Homo sapiens: one gene and its partners. The protein of the gene in region 6 purifies or fractionates together with the protein of the main gene of each other region. This does not show direct contact. Each region holds a gene or a part of one and is shown on either strand. Other genes may lie near its edges.

What was found.
Region 1: the proteins of COPG2 (region 6) and RDH11 purify together in Homo sapiens (affinity purification with mass spectrometry; one large-scale study listed by BioGRID and IntAct). This does not show direct contact.
Region 2: the proteins of COPG2 (region 6) and SCYL3 purify together in Homo sapiens (affinity purification with mass spectrometry; 2 studies listed by BioGRID and IntAct, with this or other methods). This does not show direct contact.
Region 3: the proteins of COPG2 (region 6) and SCN2B purify together in Homo sapiens (co-immunoprecipitation; one large-scale study listed by IntAct). This does not show direct contact.
Region 4: the proteins of COPG2 (region 6) and APMAP purify together in Homo sapiens (affinity purification with mass spectrometry; one large-scale study listed by BioGRID and IntAct). This does not show direct contact.
Region 5: the proteins of COPG2 (region 6) and UBE2R2 purify together in Homo sapiens (affinity purification with mass spectrometry; one large-scale study listed by BioGRID and IntAct). This does not show direct contact.
Region 7: the proteins of COPG2 (region 6) and MCFD2 purify together in Homo sapiens (affinity purification with mass spectrometry; one large-scale study listed by BioGRID and IntAct). This does not show direct contact.

What each region holds. Positions count from the first base shown.
Region 1 is NC_000014.9:67,692,965-67,696,890, forward strand, and holds the start of RDH11 (retinol dehydrogenase 11), read right to left. Parts: upstream 2,801-3,926; 5' UTR 2,740-2,800; coding exon 2,666-2,739; intron 89-2,665; coding exon 1-88. UniProt on the Homo sapiens protein: Retinol dehydrogenase with a clear preference for NADP. Displays high activity towards 9-cis, 11-cis and all-trans-retinol, and to a lesser extent on 13-cis-retinol.
Region 2 is NC_000001.11:169,859,397-169,862,896, reverse strand, and holds part of SCYL3 (protein-associating with the carboxyl-terminal domain of ezrin), read left to right. Parts: intron 1-99; coding exon 100-284; intron 285-3,500. UniProt on the Homo sapiens protein: May play a role in regulating cell adhesion/migration complexes in migrating cells.
Region 3 is NC_000011.10:118,164,473-118,166,639, reverse strand, and holds part of SCN2B (sodium channel regulatory subunit beta-2 precursor), read left to right. Parts: 3' UTR 1-2,167. UniProt on the Homo sapiens protein: Regulatory subunit of multiple voltage-gated sodium (Nav) channels directly mediating the depolarization of excitable membranes.
Region 4 is NC_000020.11:24,968,752-24,972,251, forward strand, and holds part of APMAP (adipocyte plasma membrane-associated protein), read right to left. Parts: intron 2,826-3,500; coding exon 2,709-2,825; intron 1,621-2,708; coding exon 1,446-1,620; intron 910-1,445; coding exon 775-909; intron 334-774; coding exon 141-333; intron 1-140. UniProt on the Homo sapiens protein: Exhibits strong arylesterase activity with beta-naphthyl acetate and phenyl acetate. May play a role in adipocyte differentiation.
Region 5 is NC_000009.12:33,914,660-33,918,159, reverse strand, and holds part of UBE2R2 (ubiquitin-conjugating enzyme E2 R2), read right to left. Parts: intron 1,143-3,500; coding exon 923-1,142; 3' UTR 1-922. UniProt on the Homo sapiens protein: E2 ubiquitin-conjugating enzyme that accepts ubiquitin from an E1 ubiquitin-activating protein, and catalyzes its covalent attachment to other proteins by an E3 ubiquitin-protein ligase complex.
Region 6 is NC_000007.14:130,546,749-130,550,248, forward strand, and holds part of COPG2 (coatomer subunit gamma-2), read right to left. Parts: intron 2,629-3,500; coding exon 2,566-2,628; intron 1,795-2,565; coding exon 1,655-1,794; intron 1,098-1,654; coding exon 926-1,097; coding exon of another isoform or gene 894-925; exon of another isoform or gene 1-893. UniProt on the Homo sapiens protein: The coatomer is a cytosolic protein complex that binds to dilysine motifs and reversibly associates with Golgi non-clathrin-coated vesicles, which further mediate biosynthetic protein transport from the ER, via the Golgi up to the trans Golgi network.
Region 7 is NC_000002.12:46,909,307-46,912,806, forward strand, and holds part of MCFD2 (multiple coagulation factor deficiency protein 2 isoform A precursor), read right to left. Parts: intron 1,568-3,500; exon of another isoform or gene 1,474-1,567; intron 1-1,473. UniProt on the Homo sapiens protein: The MCFD2-LMAN1 complex forms a specific cargo receptor for the ER-to-Golgi transport of selected proteins. Plays a role in the secretion of coagulation factors.

The DNA of each region.
Region 1 (3,926 bases), on a different chromosome or scaffold from region 6:
CCCGATACCTGTATTAGCTCCTGTGACCACAACTACTTTCCCAGGAAGCTGAACAGTTGATGTACACACCCCACTGGACAGCATTTTCCTGCAGACAGAGAAGGAGAGCTCATCAATTCTTCATTCTACTGTCTCAGCCAGTAGGTTCCTGCAACTCCCTGTGTCTTCTGGCTGAGGTTTGCTTTAGTTCTTTCCACTGTTGTCCTTTTAAGGAAACAGTGTCCATTTAAGGAAAGTTGGAGGAAAGATGACAAAAGTTTTCTGCTTTTGCTCAAAGACAAAAGTGATTCTATTACAAGGGCAAAGCTTACAGCTGTTCTCTGCAGCACAAGAACTGGATGAATACCTGCTTAGCCAGGCACCTGGCTTTGGTTTGAGCTCTCTAAGGCACTTGTGACTTAGGAAATCACAAGATTCAGCCCAGAAGAAGAAATAACTAGTTTCTGTAGGTCAATCTGTCCACAACTGGCATTTTATGGCCTTGAGAAATGGCTAATCCAATACAAAAAGTTAAAATTATGAAAGCTTGTGACTCTGGGACAAAATAAACAAGAAAAAAAAAACACACCCACACGCATGCACATACACACTTAAAACAAAGAGAAGATTATGTATGTACAAAGGGGAGCTGGGATTCAAGTCTTGCTTTGTGTAATTAGAGTCCTTGTTTCTTTCTTTCTCTTTCTCTTTTTTTTTTTTTTGAGACAGAGTTTTGCTCTTGTTGCCCAGGCTGGAGTGCAATGGTGTGATCTCGGCTCACTGCAACCTCCACCTCCACTGCAACCCCCATCTCCCAGGTTCAAGCGATTCTCATCCCTCACCCCCTCACCCATGCGCCACCACGCCCAGCTAATTTTTGTATTTTTAGTAGAGACAGGGTTTCACCACGCTGGCCAGGATGGTCTCGAACTCCTGACCTCAGGTGATCCGCCCACCTCAGCCTCCCAAAGTGCTGGGATTACAGGTGTGAGTCACCAAGCCCAGCCTAGAGTGCTTGTTTCTAAGTACTATACTATATTGCCTTTTCCAAATGAATGAATGCACAAACACAGATTGGTGGTTCTCAGACTGGCCTATTCTCTTCTTGGCAATGTTGGGACTCTGGTTAAAACAATCTGTTGACCAGGAGATGCATTCTTAAAGAGCATTTCAGCCTTTTTCATTGAACTTGGAATTGCAAGGTACATACTCTTAGCCATTGAAGCTACCTGCATAGTGCGAAAATGCTGACAGGGAGGCAGATTAACTCATGGTCCCCACAAACCATCACCTCCCTCCTCAGAAAACAAGCCTCTAGGCTGTTTCCCACATCCCCTTACTGTATGTAGCTCCAGGAGTGACAACTTAGTAGGACCTGTACTTAGTTCTTTCTTCTCCTTAACCAGCAGGAATGAAAGAGACAACTATAAAAGTCCAGCTCTGGCCCGACTCCCATAACCCTGCTGAGTTGGGAATACAGCTCCTGGAATATATATATATATATATATACACACACACACACATATATATATATACACACACACACATATATATATATATATACACACATATATTTTTTTTTTTTCCAGAAAAATCCCTCTGGGGTATGAGCACTATTTTCAGTTCTGGTTCAACTTTTCATTGAGATTCTATGTGGATAAGAGGATCTTGTAGTGAAAAAAAGATAAAAAGCAGTGTTTTCATCTGAGTGTGAGAAACCATGTGTGCCTAGAGGTGGGAGAACTGAGTGTTCAGAAGGCAGAAAAAATATAACTGGAAGAGGGGCACCAGAGAAGGAAGAGAAAATAAAAATAAAAGAAGGAAAGTAGGTGACTGTGGTAAGAAATGACTGTGATCTGGCCTGGCTTCAAGTTCTATTGGGACTAAGACCGCCCACCTGGGGAAGGAGTGTGTCTGTCTATTCAGTCACTGGTCCGTCACCACTGGTGATTTACTTAGAACCAATAAGCAGGCTGCCGGTTTTACAGCCCGCTGCTGATTCACTGGGGCACTTGGCCAGCCTTGGGCTGATTGATCTATCACCTGGTCAATACCTTCCCACCATTCTCCCAGCCCTCACCGCCCCAGTACCCTAGCTCCTAACTCAGATCCCCCGTGCTCCTGCTCGCAAGGCAGGATAGAGCTCATAACCAAACACTCTTCCTTTTCACTTTTCTCCTTTACAACATCCGCCCACAGAACAAGCGATTGTAACAGCAACGAGAGAGCAAGGATGGGGCCGCAGATGTTACGATTGCTATCAGTTTCAGAGGGCGAAATGTGGAATCGCTCCTTTGTACCTCGAAGGCTGGTTTAAGGCGTGGGGAATAAGGGGAAAACAGCGTCGGGCCATATCCCATTGAAGAGTCCGAAACTCAAGCGTTTGAGGTAGCCTTACCCTCGGGATTCCCTGGAGCCAGAATCAGGGGGTGCTTAGACAAAAGAAAAACAGGCCAGGGAAAAGCAGTGTGCCCCGGACTGCCGCCCTTTCTCACCGCCTGGGGTCTCGGGTGTCCTCCTGGCACCCAGGACAGCTGGACCTCGCCTCCAACCCACCGAACTCTGGGCTCCGCCATCTTGGAGCCCCCCCAGGGGAGTTTTCCAAGAAAGCTTTGGTGGGGATTCTATGTTTCCCTCCCGCCCCGCAACAAGAATTCTCAAGAGAAGGCAATACATTTGCACAGACCTGATTTGGGGCGCAGCCATATACAGAAGGAAGGGCAGAAGGAGGAGCAACAGCGGGAACATGAGCTCAACCATCTCTGCCGGCTGCAGCGGCACCAGAGCGGGATGCTCCAGCGTTGCTCGCCGACTATGGCTTCTCTTTCTAGACACGCCCCAATTCAAATTGCGACAGCCCGGGGAGCAGACCTTCTGGGAAATGTAGTCCAGAGCTTGACAGCCTCAGGCTGGCTACGTGGGAGCGCTGCCGCCAACGCTGGCAGAAGTTGAATTATACATCGCTAATCCCCAACCATCTAGGGCTTAGGGCCTGTGGGATCATTCACCCAGCTCTCAGTTATTTTTTCTGCCTTCTGAATACTCAGTTCTCCCACCTCTAGGCACACATGGTTTCTCACACTCAGATGAAAACACTGCTTTTTATCTTTTTTTCACTACAAGATCCTCTTATCCACATAGAATCTCAATGAAAAGTTGAACCAGAACTGAAAATAGTGCTCATACCCCAGAGGGATTTTTCTGGAAAAAAAAAAGTATACACTATAGGAATAGTACACTTATTCCTATAGTGTACTAGGCACCGCGGTGTTTGTGAAATCTCTGCAGTCCTCTATCTCCCCAGACCCAAGTCCAGTGCCTGGTTCAGTTTTCCCCAATCCTGGTTAGGCAGTTACCGCACTGTTTCTCCTGGAGATCAGATGTTGGCGTCTGGGAAATGAAAGGCGGATTAGACAGGAGAGGAGCGGTCCGAAGTCTGACAGTTGGGAAGGTGGGGGAATGTAAACCCTTCCTCCTCGAGGATTCCTTTTTCCAGAGAAGAGGAAGCAATAAGTCCTTGAAGACATTCTCAGGAGAATCACTTTATTGTGTCTATCTTGAATTATGGTGGCAACTATCATGATTTTTCTAGTGTTTGAGTGTTCATTGATAATAGAATATCGTCTTCCTGATGGCTTGGGTCACATACATTAACTCCCAGGGTAGCAATGAATATCTCAGATTGGCACAGTTGGTTTTGCCAACTCGTGAAAGTATTTAATCCTGTCTTGAATTAAGGCCATGAATATGTTCTCTGTGAATAAATAGGTTCCCTGTTCAATAGTTTCTTTCATCTGAGGCCTATTTCCTGGGGGTGAAAGTGGAGGGTGTTTTAACCAATCAATATCTGTCTGTGATTCCTTAATTGTACCCAGTAATATTTTCTGGTCCTTTTGCATAATTTCCATTTGGTTAAAAGACACGGGTTCCAATGAACTAATATATTT
Region 2 (3,500 bases), on a different chromosome or scaffold from region 6:
ATATGTGTAGTTTTGGGTTCAGTGTATGAATTATGCTTAATACTTTTCACTGAAATGAAAATTTGTTTTTTCATCTGTAACCTTTGATTTTTCGGGTAGATCATGCGCAGGGAGAAACTCCTTGCTTGCTCTCACCAGCCCTGTTCCAGTCACGGGTGATCCCCGTGCTTCTCCAGTTGTTTGAAGTTCATGAAGAGCATGTGCGGATGGTGCTGCTGTCTCACATCGAGGCCTACGTGGAGCACTTCACTCAGGAGCAGCTGAAGAAAGTCATCTTGCCACAGGTCAGAGGCCAAGTTTGCAGTGGGGTAGTCACAGAACCTGAGGGAAGAGTGCTGAAAGAAAGAGTTTTGGAGGTATTCAGATAATAGCTTAGAAAGCCTTCAGGCAGCAGTCTGTGGAATACAAAGTGCTGAAATTAAAATTGCATTTCCATTCCATTCACACAGGCAAATTGATTAAACTGACATATTTGGTCTTAACCTGGGAGAAACTATAATTGTTTGTTAATTTTGGGAGGGTAAATGAATAACAATAATGTATGGAGCACTTTGTGAACATAACATATAATTATCCATAATTATTATAAAGTAATTAAATTAGAACAGAGAGGAGCATGAGATGATTCTTATCAGTGGCTTTCAGCCTGTTGTTATCAGCCACTAGGGAACCTTATTATGATTTGCCCACCAAAGGGTTTTGTTAGTGAAACTAATGAAAGGTTTGTATTAGTTGCTTAGGCTGCCATAACAAATTATCACAAATTATAATGGCTTAAAGCAATACAAATTTATTTTTAGTTCTGGAGGCCAGAAGTCTAAAACCAGGGTGTCAACAGGACCCTGCTTCCTCTGAAGGCTGTAGGATGTGAAAGGGACTCCTCTTTACAAGCTTCTCGTAGCTCCCAGCAATCCTTGGTATTTCTTGGCTTGTGGCTGTATCATTCCAGTCTCTGCTTCTGTTGTCACGTGGCCTTCTTACCTCCTTGTCTGTCTTTACATGGCCTCTTAGAAAGACACCAGTCATTGAATTTATGGCCTACCCTAACCCAGTATGACCTCATCTAAAGGTCACATTCTGCATGGACATGAATTTTGGAGGGACACTATTCAACCTAGTATGAGGTTTTAAAAAAATTGTTTTAAAAGACTACAATCACATGGTGTCTTTCAAATAATTTTCCTATGAGATAGATTAACATTCTCTCTGCTTTCAAGGAGCTCATAAGTGGGACATGTTTCAGTCATCCGTTGCCATGTAAGTACCCCAAAACTTAGTGCCTTAAAATAATAATCATTTTATTAATTCTCATGATTCTTTGGATTGACTGGACTCAGCTGAAGGTTCTGTTCCACATATCAGCTGAGTCTTCAGTCATCTGGGGCCCGACAAGGGTTGACACATCCAAAATGGCTCCTTGGTATCTTGGAAGGGGTGGCTGAGAGGCTGCGCCTTTCTCTCCATGAATTTTCAGGAAGCTTGGGGGGCTTGTATCCCCCCATGTGACATTTCCACATGATTTCTCTAGCAAGGCAGGTGGACTTCTTAAATGGCTGGCCAGGGCTAAAGAAAAAAAAAGGGCAAAAGAAGCCTTCTTAAAGTGTAGGTTGTGAACTGACAGTCATTTTTGCCTCATTCTCTCGGTTAGAGTTGGAAAAAGCCCAGGCTCATTGTGGGATGGGTTTACTCAAGGGCATGGATACTGGAGGTGTGATTCGCTGGGGGCTGACTTTAAAGTCTCTGTGTTGTAGTAACTACAACATAGCACTTTGTATTTACATCTGCAGCAGTAATTGTTACCCTGTATGTAGTTGTGTCTGGAAATTTAGAAGAGGAATGAAGCACTTTAACTCTGAAATGGAGTTGTCATCATAGGTCTCAGAATTGGACTGAGGTCAAAGAGTAAATGTTGAGCATGTGGAAGACAATGAAACCTCTCATTACTTAGGAAACTGCTTCCCCTAAAGAAGAGTGGGCCAATTTGTGTGTGCTAGAAAGTTCACTTTGGTAGCAGTGTGGAAGAGACCACAGAAAGGGAGATAAGCTAGGAAGCTGTTAGAATAGTTTAGCTAAGAGATGACAAAGGCTGGGGAAAGTGTGACAGTGGATATAGTAGAGGGACACAGAAGGGGTAGTACTCAGTTTCTCATTAGATGGAAGAGGTGTTGAGGATGACCAATTTTTGGCTTGGGCGGATTGCTGTTTTATGATTATCATATTCAGTGGGCAGAACTCTAATCATATGTAAAAGAAACATGCTTTAGTTTACATGTACAGAAAGTGATCTGTTAGCATTGGTCCTAATAATTATCTTTTGAGTCCTGTTGGAAACCTTTAATCTTACTATATAAATGAGGAAACCAGGCCAGAAAAATAAAAAGACCAATTGGTCAAGTCACATTGAGAATTATTAGCAGAGCTAAGACCAAAACCAAAGATTCCTGATACCTGTCACGCCCTGCTGCTTCCAGTAGGCAGGCCAGTTACCCTGGCCTTGTGTCTGGCTGGTGCAGATGCTTTGAAGGTCATTTCCTTCCTTATATGCAGAGCAGTACTTGCCTGATATCTGCATGTGACTGTCTTCTAAGGTGTTTTTGGTTGCAAGTAACTGAAACTCATTTTAAACCAGCCAAAGCAAAAAAAATTTAAGAATGTTAGACTAACTTAGATGGAAATCAAGTGCAGCTGGGGCTTACAGCCATGTTTTTCATTCCTTTCTTCTGTCTGCATTTGTTTGACTTTTGACTCTCTGAAGACCAGCTTTCCTTGTTTTGGTGTGCACATGGCCAAAATGGTTGTCCCATAACTTCCAAGTTTTCTGTCCTCATAAAAAAAAATTATTTTAGAGATGGGGGTCTCACTGTGTTGCCCAAGCTAGAGTGCAGTGGCTCTTCACAGGCATGAACCCACTACCGATCAGCCCAGGAGTTTGACCTGCTCCATTTCCAACCTGGGCTGGTTCACCCCTCTTTAGGCAACCTGGTAGTCCCCAGCTCCTGGGAGGTTACTATATTGATGCTGAATTTAGTGCAGACACCCAATCAGCATAGCACACTACAGCCCAGAACTCCTGGGCTCAAGTGATCCACATGCCTCAGCCTTCTGAGTAGCTCGGGCTACAGGCACTTGTCCCTGCCTGGCATACTGTCCTCATTGAGTAAACCTATATAAACTGAAAATATAAATTCTAGTTTATATTACTGGACAAAAGATCATGATGGGCTCAGTTTGGGACAGGTGGTCCTACCCTTGAAAAGAGCTGAAAAGAGAAGCATGGACAGGAACATAACTGTTAGTACCCTAGATGAGTTCTGAGTGCGCTCTGCAGAACACTGCCAGTACATGAACTTTTTATTACAGTTCTGTGATGTGAGTACAGATATGAAGACTTAACATTTAAAACCTTTTGTCGCAATTTGACAGAGTAATTTTATGTACCCAACATATGTCTTTTTAATTTTGTTTTGATTGTATTTTTTAAAAATGGTAAGTCTGTGATG
Region 3 (2,167 bases), on a different chromosome or scaffold from region 6:
CTGCCAGTCCCTGGGGGGAGGCAGGAGGCACATGTGAGGGTCCCCAGAGAGAAGGGAGTGGGTGGGCAGGGGTAGAGGAGGGGGCCGCTGTCCACCTGCCCAGTGCTTGGCCTGGCAGTGGCTTCAGAGAGGACCTGGTGGGGAGGGAGGGCTTTCCTGTGCTGACAGCGCTCCCTCAGGAGGGCCTTGGCCTGGCACGGCTGTGCTCCTCCCCTGCTCCCAGCCCAGAGCAGCCATCAGGCTGGAGGTGACGATGAGTTCCTGAAACTTGGAGGGGCATGTTAAAGGGATGACTGTGCATTCCAGGGCACTGACGGAAAGCCAGGGCTGCAGGCAAAGCTGGACATGTGCCCTGGCCCAGGAGGCCATGTTGGGCCCTCGTTTCCATTGCTAGTGGCCTCCTTGGGGCTCCCGTTGGCTCCTAATCCCTTAGGACTGTGGATGAGGCCAGACTGGAAGAGCAGCTCCAGGTAGGGGGCCATGTTTCCCAGCGGGGACCCACCAACAGAGGCCAGTTTCAAAGTCAGCTGAGGGGCTGAGGGGTGGGGCTCCATGGTGAATGCAGGTTGCTGCAGGCTCTGCCTTCTCCATGGGGTAACCACCCTCGCCTGGGCAGGGGCAGCCAAGGCTGGGAAATGAGGAGGCCATGCACAGGGTGGGGCAGCTTTCTTTGGGGCTTCAGTGAGAACTCTCCCAGTTGCCCTTGGTGGGGTTTCCACCTGGCTTTTGGCTACAGAGAGGGAAGGGAAAGCCTGAGGCCGGCATAAGGGGAGGCCTTGGAACCTGAGCTGCCAATGCCAGCCCTGTCCCATCTGCAGCCACACTACTCGCTCCTCTCCCAACAACTCCCTTCGTGGGGACAAAAGTGACAATTGTAGGCCAGGCACAGTGGCTCACGCCTGTAATCCCAGCACTTTGGGAGGCCAAGGCGGGTGGATTACCTCCATCTGTTTAGTAGAAATGGGCAAAACCCCATCTCTACTAAAAATACAAGAATTAGCTGGGCGTGGTGGCGTGTGCCTGTAATCCCAGCTATTTGGGAGGCTGAGGCAGGAGAATCGCTTGAGCCCGGGAAGCAGAGGTTGCAGTGAACTGAGATAGTGATAGTGCCACTGCAATTCAGCCTGGGTGACATAGAGAGACTCCATCTCAAAAAAAAAAAAAAAAAAAAAAAAAGGCAATTGTGCGGAGCCAACCATCACTGCCATTACACTCACATTCAATGGAAATTGATTAGGCCTGAGAGAAGGAGCAAGAGGCAGAAACACTGACTCTGAGACCATGACCTTGGAAGATCCTCAGAGATCAACTAGCCAAGTCACTCACTTAAAATGGGGAAACTGAGGTTCCAACTGACAGAAACTGAGGGTCCTGCCCTCTTCTCTGGCTCCTCAGTCTCCAGTTTGAAGCAACAGAGCCATCATTTTCCCAGTGGGAGGGGCCTCTGTGTCCTGGTCTATGATGGGGCGAGTTGGAGGGGTGGGCTTCTCTAGCCCTGCCCCCTCCCAGGAGCCCAGCCCCTCTGGCCAGGACTGAGGAGGAGTGGAGGGAAGCAGGGAGGGAGGGAGCAAGTGTGAAGGGCACAGCTGCTGGCAAATGCCCCATTCCCTGCCCCAGCACTTCCCAGCCTTTCCAGGAGCTCTGCCCCACCCCTACTCAAGGAGTCAGGTGCCCAGGGTAGGGAATAAGTCTAGGAAAGGGGGTGGAGACAGGACCGTGACAGTCTCAGGGACCAATCCCTGCCTCTGCCCATCAGATTGCCAATTTGGGGAGACAGCAATATCATCTGGGAGATTCAGCTTAATTTGCTTCAATTCAGCAACCATTTATTGAGCATCTATTATGTGCCAGGCACTGTGCCGGGCACTGGGGATATACACAAAGCCATAAGCACTGGGGACTGCCAGGTTGGCACTGTAGGGACCAAGATTAACTTTTTGGTGCATCTAATTCCACCTCTGCAAGACACTGCTTCCAAGGCTACAGTTGGGGAAGATGAAGAGATTCTAGAATCTGTGCCCTGGGAAGGGAGAAACAGCAGGGAAGAGGGGCAATACAACAGGGTCAAGGGTGCAGAGGCCAGGCAGAGTGGGTGCAGAGTGGGGGATGGGCAACCAGCCTGGTAACACCTGGGTGAGGTGAGCGAGTCAAGCCCATCTGGAAATGC
Region 4 (3,500 bases), on a different chromosome or scaffold from region 6:
TGAAGAATGAAATGTGTTTCTAAGTGTCATTCAGAGCCAAATACTACAAGCAGAACTAGATTTTTAAGCTATAAGGGTCAAAAAAATATGATTCAATTCATTTCCATTTTCTTTCTTGGAATAACAGTTTTCACAGTTACCTTAAAAATCATCCTTTTAATCCAGGGTCTCTCAGATAAGAAATCCAGCATGGAAAACCCAGGGTTAGGGCGGATGGTCGACATGCCCACCCAGTACCCCCCAGAGCTGCTGGGCCGGATGTTGTCTGGAAATCCAGGCATGTTCTCCACAAACAGATCAGCCCCGCCCTTCATCAGGCCAGAAACGTAGACTCTGAAAAATTCACCCAAGCAGAGAGTGAACCATAGCCCCTCAATTTCAGAAAAAAAATTTTAGCCAAGCACCAAACTGGTCTTGGTCCAAATATATATATGGAAAGTGCTCTATGACCATCATGAACAAAGGCTCAGCTGCTGAGAAGAAACCTTTGTGCACAGGGCCCAGTATGAACAGAGGGGAAGTAGGTCAGGGGAGGACCAAGGCCCTGCCAGCAGGGGAATGGGGCCCGGGCTGCACCAGTCAGCCTTAAGACACTCTTCCGGACTGCGACTCGCAATGGGAGAAAGAAAGCGCACCCTTGAATTTTCTTTAACATGCCATGCAGAAGGTGCGCTGCTGCCTCTGATTTCTGTCGATCCCATTTCCATGCCCACCCCACCCCGGCCATGATGCGCTCTGGCCAGTAACTGATGGCTCAGCTAATCCCACACACACCTTCGTATCCTGGCCATGGTTGTTTCTGCCACCAGGACAAAGTCTTCTGCAGGAGACAGCTGGACTCCATTCGGGAACCGCAGCTGGTCCAATAAAACTTTTACTTCCCTGGTCACAGTATCATACTCCAGCAGGCTGTGGAACACCAAAAGCAGAGGGTTATGGGGGAGAATCCCTGGCTCCCACTCTGGGCCTTCAGGGTATGGGCCTGAAGAAGGTGACTCCGCCTCACCCCGGAGCAACAGGCCCTGGGTGCCCTGCTCAAACTTGATTCGAGGCTGGCCCCTGGGGGCCCTTCCCCATCCACAGCAGATCCAGTGTCCCCTCCAGGGAACCCCAAGGTCAGTTATCTTGCTCACCTGGGAGCTGGACAGGAATACCCCTCAGAGAGGCAACCCAAAGCCCAGGCCTGCCTCCGGGGTCTCTCTCGACTGCCTAGACTTGCACCCTCAGACGGACTGGCCTGTTTTATTTCCTCAGAGAAAACGAAAGCACCTTGTTCCATTTTGTGACATCCATCACCTGCCTCCAGAAGCCACTAAGGTCCTGTCCTAGAAGCTGAAATATGATGCTGGAAATACTCCCTTGGTCCCTAGAAGTAACAGGCTCTGCTGAAGCAACTGGCCTGGCTGGTGAACTCAACAAATGGGAGACCTGGAGCAAGGCCTCACCGCCCGTCATCTGTGCCCTCCATCACCAGAAGCAGGTAGTCTCGTCTTTGCCATTTGCTGCTAGAATCGGTGAAATAAATCTTCCTCCCATCCTGAGTGACTGTAAGATCATTCACAAAGGACATGTTCTTCCCCTCAATGGGTGTCTCGGAGGACAGCAGCAGTTTCACTTCACCTGAAGTTTAAAAAGAAAGAAAAAGATTGACTTGAACTAGGAACTTCTCAATAATTGCAAAATATTAACCAACCTAACTGATTTAAAAAGAAAAACTGAAACTTCTCCATGTCATTTGTCAGAAGATTTATTCCTTCTTATAGTAAAAACAGTATTAGGTGTTAAATGATTTTTTTAGACTAATTTCATTAAAGGCAGAATCTTTTCTATAAGGATGAGGAATTCCTTCTTTTACTAAGGCCAACTGACTTGATAACATCTACTGCAAGTGTTAGGCAGGCTTCAGTTCTATTTGTTAGTTCTATTTGAGAGAAATATGACATTCTACTCATCTCCTTTTAGAAAAGAAAAGTAGTAGTAAGTTTTGAAAAATAATAGAAAGAACATGGATTGAGTGCTAAGCACTCTCGAGGTGTGATCGCCTTTAAACCCTCGCAACAATCCCACAGGCAGGGCTACTATGACCCCAATTTGATGAGGAAGCTGGGCAGAGAGCAACTAAGGGACCTGCAGTCACAGCTGGTGGCCAGCAGAGTGGAATGCCCCCAAGCAGCTGGGCTGCAGGGCCTATGTTCGGGCCCCCACGCACAAGACAACGGACTCCTCCCCAGCAGGAACCTCCACTGAGACACACAGCACGTATTACAGCCTGATCAAGGGGACTCATGAGCAATCAGGGGAGAGAAGAGGAGGAACTACAGGAGAAAACAGAAAGGAAGAGACAAAGGGGAGGGCCACAGAGAAGAAAGAGAGAAAACAAATAGACAAGACGCAGAGAGACACACAGAAAAATCAAGACAGAAAGAGGTCTAACTTCCTCAAAATAAGTCCTTTTGAGACCCTGTGGCTAAAATATAAATACTAGGAGGAAATTAGGATACGGACCAAATGGAATCATGGGTAGGGAGTTTTCTGGTGTTTAAAACTAGCTGACTTTTGCAGGCAATGTTTTCAGTACTGTTCAGTGAATAAGAAATATCAGAGTCTTTAGTAGACTGTTGCTAACAAATCCTATTAAGTCTACACATACATATATTGTTTAAAAGATCTAAAATCTTCATAGAAGGAAACGAGATATTGTCACATACGTTTCCAGGGATTTACTTCAAATAGTCCCTTGTATGCATCGGCCACAAAGAGAGTCCCATTGGGCCCTGCACGGATACCCAGGGGTCTCCCACACACAGGCTCATCATCTCGGGTTTCTAGAAAAACAAACAGATGGGGATTGGTAGCTGGTCCCGGATTCTACATGTGCTGTTCTCAGTATCCAAGCATCTCATCCATCCCTTCCCATACATCATGCTGTACAGAACAAGACAAGACCATGGCATTAGAGCTACAACTGCCCTGCAGGTGCTCACTGCAGGTGCTTATTGCAAGGTGTTCATTGTGGGGTGCTCACTGCAGGGTGCTTACTGTAGGTGCTTACTGCAGGGTGTTCACTGTGGGGTGTTCACTGCAGGTGCTTATTGCAGGGTGCTCACTACAGTTGCTTATTGCAGGGTGTTCACTGTGAGGTGCTCACTGCAGGTGCTTATTGCAGGGTGTTCACTGTGGGGTACTCACTGCAGGTGCTTATTGCAGGGTGCTCACTGCAGGTGCTTACTGCAGGGTGTTCACTGTGGGGTGCTCACTACAGGTGCTTACTGCAGGGTGTTTGTGTAGAGTGCTCACTGCAGGTGCTTATTGTAGGGTGTTCACTGTGGGGTGCTCACTGCAGGTGGTTATTGCAGGGTGTTCACTGTGGGGTGCTCATTGCAGGTGCTTATTGCAAGGTGTTCACTGTGGGGTGCTCACTGCAGGTGCTTATTGCAGGGTGTTCACTGTGAGGTACTCACTGCAGGTGCTTACTGCAGGGTGTTCAAGTGGAGTGCTCA
Region 5 (3,500 bases), on a different chromosome or scaffold from region 6:
AGTGGTCACCAGTAGTTTCAACTTTTTCCCCCCAGTAGCATCAACCAAACTTAGCATAGTGATTTTTAACTCTTTGCTCCCACACGCACTCATCCCAACTTCCCCGCTTGCCCCACTCCCTGGGGGGAAATAACCCTGCCTTTAAAATAAATAGCAACCAAGTGCTCAGTTCTATGGAAAGTATGAATATTTATTTCAGGCTTTCGATCCCAATCGATTTCAAAAAACAAAGTCTGATTTCTCTCCTCAGAGCAGCTGAGGCCTCCATGTTACGATGGTTTCATGGAGATTGAAGGAGCACATTTCATCAGGCTTAGCACAAAGTCCCTGATGCCCACCATGTCCCAGCCTTAGGAAAGGAAAGAAACAGAATTCACCACCATGGGGCTGAACGAATGCACACACACTAATGTAAATGAGCAGCTAAACCTTGGCAAATTTGTTTTTTTTTTTTTTTAAAGTTTGTTTTGTGGGTTTTTTTCCATTTTCTTTTGCTACCCAGTATATGCAGCACTTGTGAACTCCCAACAGGTTCCCAGCTTTAAACACATTAAACATCTTGAAAGACTATTGAATTCTTCAAGAATCTAAAAACAGACCAAACGTGTTTTGCTGTGAACATTCTGTAGAGACGAAGTGAGGCGGGAGTTTGGGTTCATATTTTTTAAAAAAAGAATCAATATAGTGATGGAAGGGTAAAGAATGCAAGAATTCAGACATTCTGTGGAGGGTTACTCTCTCTCCATTAAAGGTCCATAAAAAGGAGCAAACTGAGATCCATAAGGGGAGTCAGCAGGAGCTGTGTGTGTTTCCCCACCCGCTGTGAATAGGTTTTTGCTGAGGGGCCATGGCCAGGTCCCCACTTGCTCCCCTCCCTTTGGCCTGAGATGGCAGGGCAGTACAGGGGCACTGAAGGAGCACGTCACGACTCCTCATTCCCAGAATCATCATCATCATAACAGTCGGCATCTTCCTCCTCCTCATCTTCATCATCAATGTCGTCATCATACAAGTCGTCGTAAAGCAAATCTGAGCTGTTGTCATTGGAAGGCACTTTAGTTTTGATGCAGTATTCCGCCAGGGTTGTGGGGACCTTCACTCCATCCTTTTCTGCTTCGGCCTTAGTGGCTGAAACTTGTTTCCTGAAGGGAGGTTGACACAGAAATGGTTTACGGTAAGTCTTTTTTTAAGACAGATTTATAATTGGCCTTAAATAATCAATATTACTTATGACTCAGCTCTCCAAACTTCAGTACCTGCCTGAAAGCATCTGACAGATACCCTGTACTACACCAAATGCTTTCAACCCACTGGGTACAATTTTGAAGTAAACTTTGACTTTTTAGGAGGGGAAATACACTGTTAATATCAAGGGAGTTTAAAGCAGTGGATCAATTATAGCCAGAATCACCTCGTCAACTGGCTGTCCTCCGATTCATGTAAGGGCCAATAGGTCGGCGACTTAAGAATCAGAACAGGTATTGACTTAGTGGGCGGAATGTCATGCTTTGTTGTTTGCATGTGTGAAGCACAGGGATAACTGCCAGAATAAGAATAGATAATAGAAGGGCTAATACGCCTCCTAGTTTCTTGGGGCTAGATCATAAAGGTTGCATATGTGAATAAAACGTCCCACTCTGGTTTAATGTGGGGTGGGGTGCTTAGGGGATTGGCTAGGGTTTTGGCCTAGTCACCTCACCACCAAACTCAAGTGCCCCAACAATTCTTAATTTAATTATCCTCTTAATTTTCACTGACAGTAAAATTCAAATGCCTATGCCAGATTCCAGTGTCTTGCACGACCCACTCTTCCCCACCCAAGACGGAGTCTTGCTCTGTCACCCAGGCTGGAGTGCAGCGGCGTGATCTCGGCCCACTGCAACCTCCATCTCCCAGGTTCAAGCAATTCTCCTGCCTCAGCCTCCCAAGTAGCTGAGATTACAGGCTCCCGCCACCCCACCGGGCTAAATTTTGTATTTTTAGTAGAGATGGGGTTTCACCATGTTGGCCAGGCTGGTCTCGAACTCCTGGCCTCATGATCTGCCCACCTCGGCTTCCCAAAGTGTTGGGATTACAGGCATGAGCCACTGCACCCGGCCACATGACCCACTCTTGTATTTTCTCCAGCCCTTCAACACATTCACCCTGGTCTTTTTTTGGCATCTCGGACACACCTTGTTGATTTTTCTGTCTGGACCAGTTGCTCTTCCCCTGCCCCACACATGCCTGGCTCCTTCCTGTCACTCAGAATCACGGCCTCAGATATTAAGGCTTAAATATCACCTTAGAGAAGGCCTGGCCTGACAACCCAATTTAAAGCAGCCATCTAGTCATTCTTTCACATTATCCTACTTAGCACTATCTAGTATTTTTTGCTTGCTCACTCTTCTGTCTCCACATATTTGAATGTGAGCGTAAATGTCTTTCTTAGTCCCATTTCCCCAGTCAGTGCCTAGCACATAGCCTGGCACATAAGAGGTGTGCAATAAATACTGATTGTATGAATGAACAAACAATAAATTGTTTCCTTCAACAATTATAAAAATTTGAGTCATCAAGACTAGACCACTCTTCCTGATCTTCCTAATGTCAATCTCTTAGTTGTGCTTGAAGCTTTTCTTCTGTTGCCTTGCTTTGAATATTGATGGTCCTGAGGCTTCTGGGCTTCAATCTCCACACTCTCAGCACTCTCCCTGGGACATCATCTCTGTTCCCATAATTTTAACCACCACTCCCTTTATGCTGACAGCTCTTGGCTTATATAAACAAATGCCTTTTGGAAGCCTCTGTCCTAATGTTCCATATGCAGAGGTAGACTGCATATGCATTTTCTACCTCTATGGACAGTTTCTCCCATTTTACTTCTCTGAATAAATGAGCATTGCTTCTTAAAATAATAAATCTCACTCCAAAGACCTATTGCTTTACAGCTTAAATATTTTTATATCTGTCCCCTCATCCCCATTACTACTACCTCAGTTTAGTCCATGTTGGTCCCCTGGCCAACTATTTGATTTTTTTTTTTTTTTTGAGACAAGGTCTCCCACTGTCACCCAGGCTAGAGCACAGTGACGCAATCTCAGCTCATTGCAACCTCTGGCTCCAGAGCTCAAGCAATCCTCCCACCTCAGACTCCCAAGTAGCTGGGATTACAGGTATAAGCCACCTCTCCTGGCTAATTTTTTTGTAGAGATGGTATTTTGCCATGTTGCCCAGGCTTGTCTCAAACTCCTGGGCTCAAGCAATCTGCCCGCCTCGGCCTCCCAAAGTCCTGGGATTACAGGCGTGAGCCACTGTGCCCAGCTGACTGTCTTTTTTTTTTTTTTCTTTTGAGACGGTGTCTTGCTTTGTTTCCCAGGCTGGAGTGCAGTGGCGCGATCTCAGCTCACTGCAACCTCTGCCTCCCGGGTTCAAGCAATTCTCTTGCCTTCAGCCTCCCGAGTAGCTGGGATTACAGGTGTGTGCCACTATGCCCAACTAACTTTTATATTTTTTGGTAG
Region 6 (3,500 bases):
AGCCCCAAATGTAACTGAATGATGACCAGGGATAACTATTTACTAGTGCTTTTATGATTTATTGTAACTCTGTAACTTTCCCAGTATTTGTTAATTTTTTAACTTCTGTTTCTCCTGTACTTACGAGCAGTAAAAGTTGTTCAAAACATAAATGTGATGTGTGTGCTTATTTCTGTGAAAACTGGGTAACAGTTACGAATATTGTGCACTGAACATGAGAAGAGAAGAAATCAAGGAGGAAAATGATGATGGGGGGAATCAAGTAGAATAAATACTTGACATTCACCTTCCCAAGTCTCCAAATAAGTAAATACTACTATTGGCACTAGTTGGCTGTCTTTTAGGGGCTATTTCTCCACCCTGCAAAGACTGCATATGGGTCAAGGAGGGAATTAAAAGCCCTTCTTAATGTGGACACACATGGTTGGCTAAGCTACTCACTAGGCTGAGACATGCTCTCAGACACCAGCCTTATGCTACAGGACCTTCAAAAATGATGTATTTTAAAATGCCAACAATCTACTACATAACCAAGTTCTATCTAACTAGATAGAAACTTTGAGGAGAAGAGGGTCAAGATTCTTCACAGGAGACCAGGTATATGAACTCTCACAAGTGGTCACATTATTCCAACAGAAAGCTTGAGTTCCTTTTTGTGCTACTGCTATACACACTCAGTTTCTCTTTTAAGATTAAGTGTTCAGCAAATTTTACTCAGAGATTTAGTTTTAAAATTAATATTTCTGCAGCAGTAAACCATTTTATAAATATATATATTCACACACACACAAACACACACACACAAACACTCATCATTAAATTCTAGAAAAGCATCACATTCTTAAACTGAGCATTTGAAGAGTTGAAGAGCTCACAAGGAAATGCATTCTGAATCACGTATCTCCTCCCTTCTGAGGGTTAGTACCTGCTGTAGGGTCATCATCAGGCAAACGAACAAGAGTGTAACATATTCCTGGTTGGTTATAAGGAAGGCTGGGGGCTGGGATACAAGACAGCACTTCATAGGAATCTGATGGCTCCATCTGCACTGTCACTTTTTCCAGCAGCTGGTCATTGAGAGTGTTGGTGCAGTCAAACTGAAAAGTCAGTAAATGGAAAAGCTGTGAAGGATAACAAGTTATCCTTCCTACTCATAACCCACTACTCAGCTCTGGAACCCACTATACCTTCTATCTCTACAGAGCAGGGTAGGTCTCCTCCTAAGATTCTTCTTTTGGCAACAGGGAGAGCCTTATTCTTGAGGTCTTTTGTTTATATTATTCATCAGTTTTTTCTCTTTCCTGAGACTGCTGTCTCAAACAAGATGGCAGAAGTCTGATGGCTGTCAAATCTAAGTTCTCAGAATAGCCCACTTAATCTACCCTGATGTTAAATGCTGATTTTAGAAAATTGGTTATACTTTATGTTGTCCAACTTCATCACACATTTCAGTTTTATGTCCTTTAGATTTTAACCATCAAAAGTTACCCATCACATGAAGGGATCTCTATAGCTCTGGTGTTAAGCAAGAAAACCAGAAATTCTGCCAAATTAATTCTCTATAATAGAAACTAGAATTATAGGTAAAGGATATTTGTCTCAAAGCATACCAGTTTATACTAAATCTCTACAGCAGCCAAGGGCATTATCTTACCTGGAACACGATGTGATTGGTAAACATGTGCTTGATACATCGAACAAAATATTCTGTCTCTGCTTCTGTAAGTTGAACAGGCTCAGAAGACTTGAACAAGGGTCCTATATTCAGAAACTCAGGAATGGCAGCCAATTGTTCTATCAAGAAAAAAGAACGTAGGCTATGAAGAAGACAGGGAAAGACTTCAGTCTGGATGCTTAAAAAATGCTTTAGTTGGCCAGGAGCAGTGGCTCACGCCTGTAATCCCAGCACTTTGGGAGGCCGAGGCAGGCGGATCACGAGGTCAGGAGATCGAGACCATCCTGGCTAAGACCATCCTGGCTAACATGGTGAAACCCCGTCTCTACTAAAAATACAAAAAAATTAGTCAGGCGTGGTGGCAGGCGCCTGTAGTCCCAGCTACTCGGGAGGCTGAGGCAGGAGAATGGCGTGAACCTAGGAGGCAGAGCTTGCAGCGAGCCGGTATTGTGCCACTGCACTCCAGCCTGGGTGACAGAGCGAGACTCTGTCTCAAAAAAAAAAAATGCTTTAGTTTCCATAGCCTTACTAATAGTTGAACATTCAACTAATATGTCCCCAAGTTTTAGTGAAGTCATCTTTCAAGTAAGTAAGCTTATATATTAATGAAAGCAAAAAGCAAAAAAAAAAAAAAAGAAAGTAAATACTTATTTTACAATGAGTTCCCTGTTAACCAACGAGATACAGAAAAGAAAAACATTCCCAATTAGCAATTACAAACTGGAAAGTTCATGGACTCCAGGTAGCCTCAGCAACTATACCCTATGGTGTTCAGCCACACGAAGATTTCCTATATTGAGAACCGATCAATTTGAGTAAGACTGGTAGACTTTTTATATTTACAATGCCTAGGGGAAAGATTATTACGTCTAACCATCAAATCATCATACCTTGGAAAATGTCTTGCCTGGAAGGAGCCAACTTCTCTGGCTTAGTAGCCACAAGTGTGATTTCTATAAAGACAGATATGAGCAAGTAAGTGAACTTCTCCCACTACTATCAAGCTAGCAATGCAGACAGAAAGAGAGGAGAGCAGACATTTCTAGCAGATATATAATGAGCTATTACTAGATCATACTTATAGGTTATCTATCACTTCTGGTGGGGGGACACTCAAATTAAAATGTATTTAGTGAACATATATTGTGGAATCATAAAGTAAGCCCTAAAAATATAGAGTTTGCTTTAAATGGACTGGAATGTACAAAAATTACTCAGAAAAGGAAAAACAATTTATTTTAAAAATCTTCTCATGATCAAAATAGGAAAAATTACTTATATCAACAGAAAAACTGAAAATGTTGAAAATAAGCATAAAATTGTTTCTTCCCAGTTTTGTGTTCTAACCACTAAACATTTATGACTTCTTTTGTTTTTGTTTTTAAGTTTTAAGATTAGATATTCTTTGGGAATATTTTTTATGATTGTCGCCCATAAATTCTTTTAAGACGAACCTCCAATAACAAAATCAATTAACTTAGAGATTATCAACTTCAGAAAATAAAAATAGGAGGCGACAGCACTATTACTGCTCTGAGATGCACAGTGGCAACTGACTTCAGATACTGTAATGCTTTGCATTAAAAAAAACCCTTCATTTTGGAGTGCATTTCATCTTACTGCTTTTATGTAAAAACCAGGAGTTTTTTTTAAACTCTAATAAAAATATGTCTTAAATCTAAAAGATTTAGAAGGGGTGACAATCGGCTGAGCACGGTGGCTCCCGCCTGTAATCCTAGCACTGTGGGAGGCCGAGGTGGGTGGATCACCTGAGGTCAGGAGTTCAAGACCAACCTGGCCAACATGGTGAAATCCAGTCTCTACT
Region 7 (3,500 bases), on a different chromosome or scaffold from region 6:
GCCCAATGCCAGCTCTGCTTTGAGACTGTGGGATGACCCTGGGCACTCCAAGTCACTCAAATGGCAGGGGAAGGCTCACGAGGTTTCCTGAAGTGCCTGCAGAGTGCCAAGCAACACGTGAAAGCTTGAAGGGACTGGAAGATTATTCTTGCCTCCCAGAAGTTATGGTCCCCTGAAAGAAATATTTTCTATCAAGAGCACCAGGAAAGGCAGCCAGCAAGTTATATCAGATTATCAGAGAAAGCGAAAACCCTCTAGGAGTTCAGGGGAAGAAATCTCCTCCGAGTGGAGGAAAATCAGAGAAGGCTGATAGAGCTGGTGACACTTCAGCTGGGCCTGGACAGATATGCAGGGACTGAAGGACCACAGGAATGGTGGGAGCAGAGTGGCAGGTGCCCACAAGCGGGAAAGAAACTACAAGTAGTTCAGCTGGGCTGCAGCCTAGAGGGTAGGAAGCAGACAGGACAGAGGTGGCTCCAAGGCCTAGACAGGCTGTACTGGACAGGGCTTTGCACACTAGGCCAGGGCTTGACATCTCCTGCAGAGAAAGACAGGAGAGTCACTTACAATTCATGAATGGGAGGTGAGATCAGAGCTTGGTTTCAGAATGACTCATCTGGCAGCACAGTGGGGAAGGCATGAAGTGGCAAAAGCAAGACTAGAGGCAGGAGCATGGTAGCCAAGGGAGTGGTAAGGCGGGTCAGATCAAGGTCTGCGGCAGCGGACAAGGTTCTGTACCTCCTGGGTGGTAACAGTGGCAAGTAACTACAGTGAGCGGGCACTGGAAAGAAAAGTTACAGAGAAATCAGGATGCCATCAGGAACTCCCAGGGTTTGGCCACACTTGGAATTGTGGTCAATAAGATGACAGTCAGCTACAGAGCAAGCTCTTGGAGGGCAGGGAGAACTTTAACCCCACCAGTATTACCCGCCAAGGGTCAGGCAGGCCTTTAATAATTGTTGATTCAATGGAAAGTCTTGGTCTGTCCTAGGGCTGACAGACTGACCTCAAAAAGGAAGGTGAAGGACAGCCAGGTGACCTACATACAAAAACAAAAGACCTGACCGAACACTCACTTCCCAACAGGCAAAACAGATTCTGCTAGATAACAAGGCCAGGGATTTCTAACAGGTCAATTGTAGTCCACAGCCCCAAACCAGCAGTGGTAAAGACAAACCATAAGGCACTGGTCATCCCCTTTACATGCTACACACAGGGCTCAGCTCAGAAGCTGTAGCTGTCTTTGTGCCTGGGGCTGAGAGGTAGAGGTGTTATAGTCCCTCTTACCCATCCTAAAAGGCTCTCAGGGCAGAACCCTGAAAGTGTGAGTATGCCACCCTACAACACTTAGAAAAATTTCCCAAATCCGTTTTTCCCATTACCAGTATTGCTTCCCATGGCCCCCTCCTTAAAGGGGACAATAGTCACTGGGATGTCTAACTTCCAGGATAGGCCAGGCATGGTGGTTCATACCTGTAATCCCAGCACTTTGGGAGGCTGAGGCAGGAGGATCACTTGAGGCCAGGAGTTTGAGATCAGCCTAGACAACACAGTCAGACCCCCATCTCTACAAAAAATAAAAAATTAGCTGAGCGTAGCAGTGCACCCCTATAGTCCCAGCCACTCAGGAGGCTGAGATAGGAAGATTGCTTGAGCCCAGGAGTTCAAGGCTGAAGTACACTCCAGCCTGGGTAACAGAGTGAGACCCTGTCCTCCACCACCAAAAAAAGGAAGAAACTTCCAGGGTGCTAAAAAGCACCTAGAATCTAGTCTACTTCTAAACAGTGACATCAAAATGCAATCTGTCTCAGACCTTTTATTTTTTAATTTTTATTTTTTTGAGACAGAGTCTTGTTCTTTCGCCAGGCTGGAGTGCAGTGGCGCAATCTTGGCTCACTGCAACCTCCGCTTCCCAGGTTCAAGCAATTCTCCTGCCTCAGCCTCCCGAGTAGCTGGGATTACAGGTGCATGTCACCACGTCCAGCTAATTTTTGTGTTTTTAGTAGAGACAGGGTTTCACCATCTTGGCCAGGCTGATCTCGAACTCCAGACCTCAGGTGATCCACCCGCCTCGGCCTCCCAAAGTGCTGGGGTTACAGGCATGAGCCACCGTGCCCGGCCACCTCAGACCTTTTATATCTGTAGTTTAAAAAAAAAAAAAAGCAATATGTCATACTTAATAGGAAAGAATGCTCAATATATATTGAATGAAAAAGAACAGGCTGCAAAAAAGCAATAAAGAATAATACACTTTTGTAAAATAAAAATGTGTATTTCCTACACAAACTAATAACAAAGATTATCTTGAGACATGAGATTAGAATTGTGATTTTCAGCCGGCATGGTGGCTCGTGCCTGTAATCCCAGCACTTTGGGAGGCCGAGGCGGGCAGATCACGAGGTCAGGAGATCGAGACCACCCTGGCTAACACGGTGAAATCCCGTTTCTACTAAAAATACAAAAATAAAAATTAGCCAGGCGTGGTGGCGGGCACCTGTAGTCCCAGCTACTTGGGAGGCTGCGGCAGGAGAATGGCATGAACCCGGAGGTGGAGCCTGCAGTGAGCCGAGATCTGCTACCATTTTTTATGAATATGTATTCAATGTAATCTATCCCATAATTTTGTCCCAATACTATATGGATCGGATACAAAAGGAGTTTCCGGTTAATTCTTATCTCCACAAAATAATTCAGAAACAGTCAGAAACTACACTTCCAATTTTACCAAATAAAAGTGCCCAGACCTTGGCCAGGGACAGTGGCTCACATCTATGATCCCAACACTTCGGGAGGCCGAGGCAAGTGGATCACTTGAGGTCAGGAGTTTGAGACCAGCCTGGCCAATGTGGCAAAATGCGTCTCTACTAAAAATACAAAAAAAAATTTGCTGGGCATGGTGGCGTGCACCTGTAATCCCAGCTATTTGGGAGGCTGAGGCACAAGAATTGCTTGAACCCGGGAGGCAGAGATTGCAGTGAGCCAAGATCACACCACTGCACTCCAGCCTGGGCAAGAGAGTGAGACTGTCTCAAAAAAATTTTTTAAACGTGTCCAGACCCTGACAAGGCCACTGCCACTGTACCTGGTACCACAAAACAAGGTTTCAGGTTACTCCTAGCAGTGACTGCCTAGGCCATAGCAGAACAACTTGTTCTGACCACACATCTTAGAGTTCTGGGACAGGAAGGATCAGAGAAGGGAATCAAGCTCCTCCCAAGCCTTTCAGACTCATTTACATCAAATGTCTCTTTCTCCAGTGAGGTCTTTTCAATTCCAAGTCTGGTGTAGGTATTCGTCCTGCAGGCTCCCAAGTGCTTCCCTTCAGAAGGCTCCCGTCCACAGCTGATGACAGCTGCAAATTAATTCTTTTTTTTCTTTTGTTTTCTTGTGTGTGAATGAATTCTTGAAAAACTGCCTGATTACTTGTCAGTGCCCCTTGCTGGATGGGCTTTAAGAGGACTTGGACTGAATCCACATTCCCAGTATCAGGCACAGTGCCT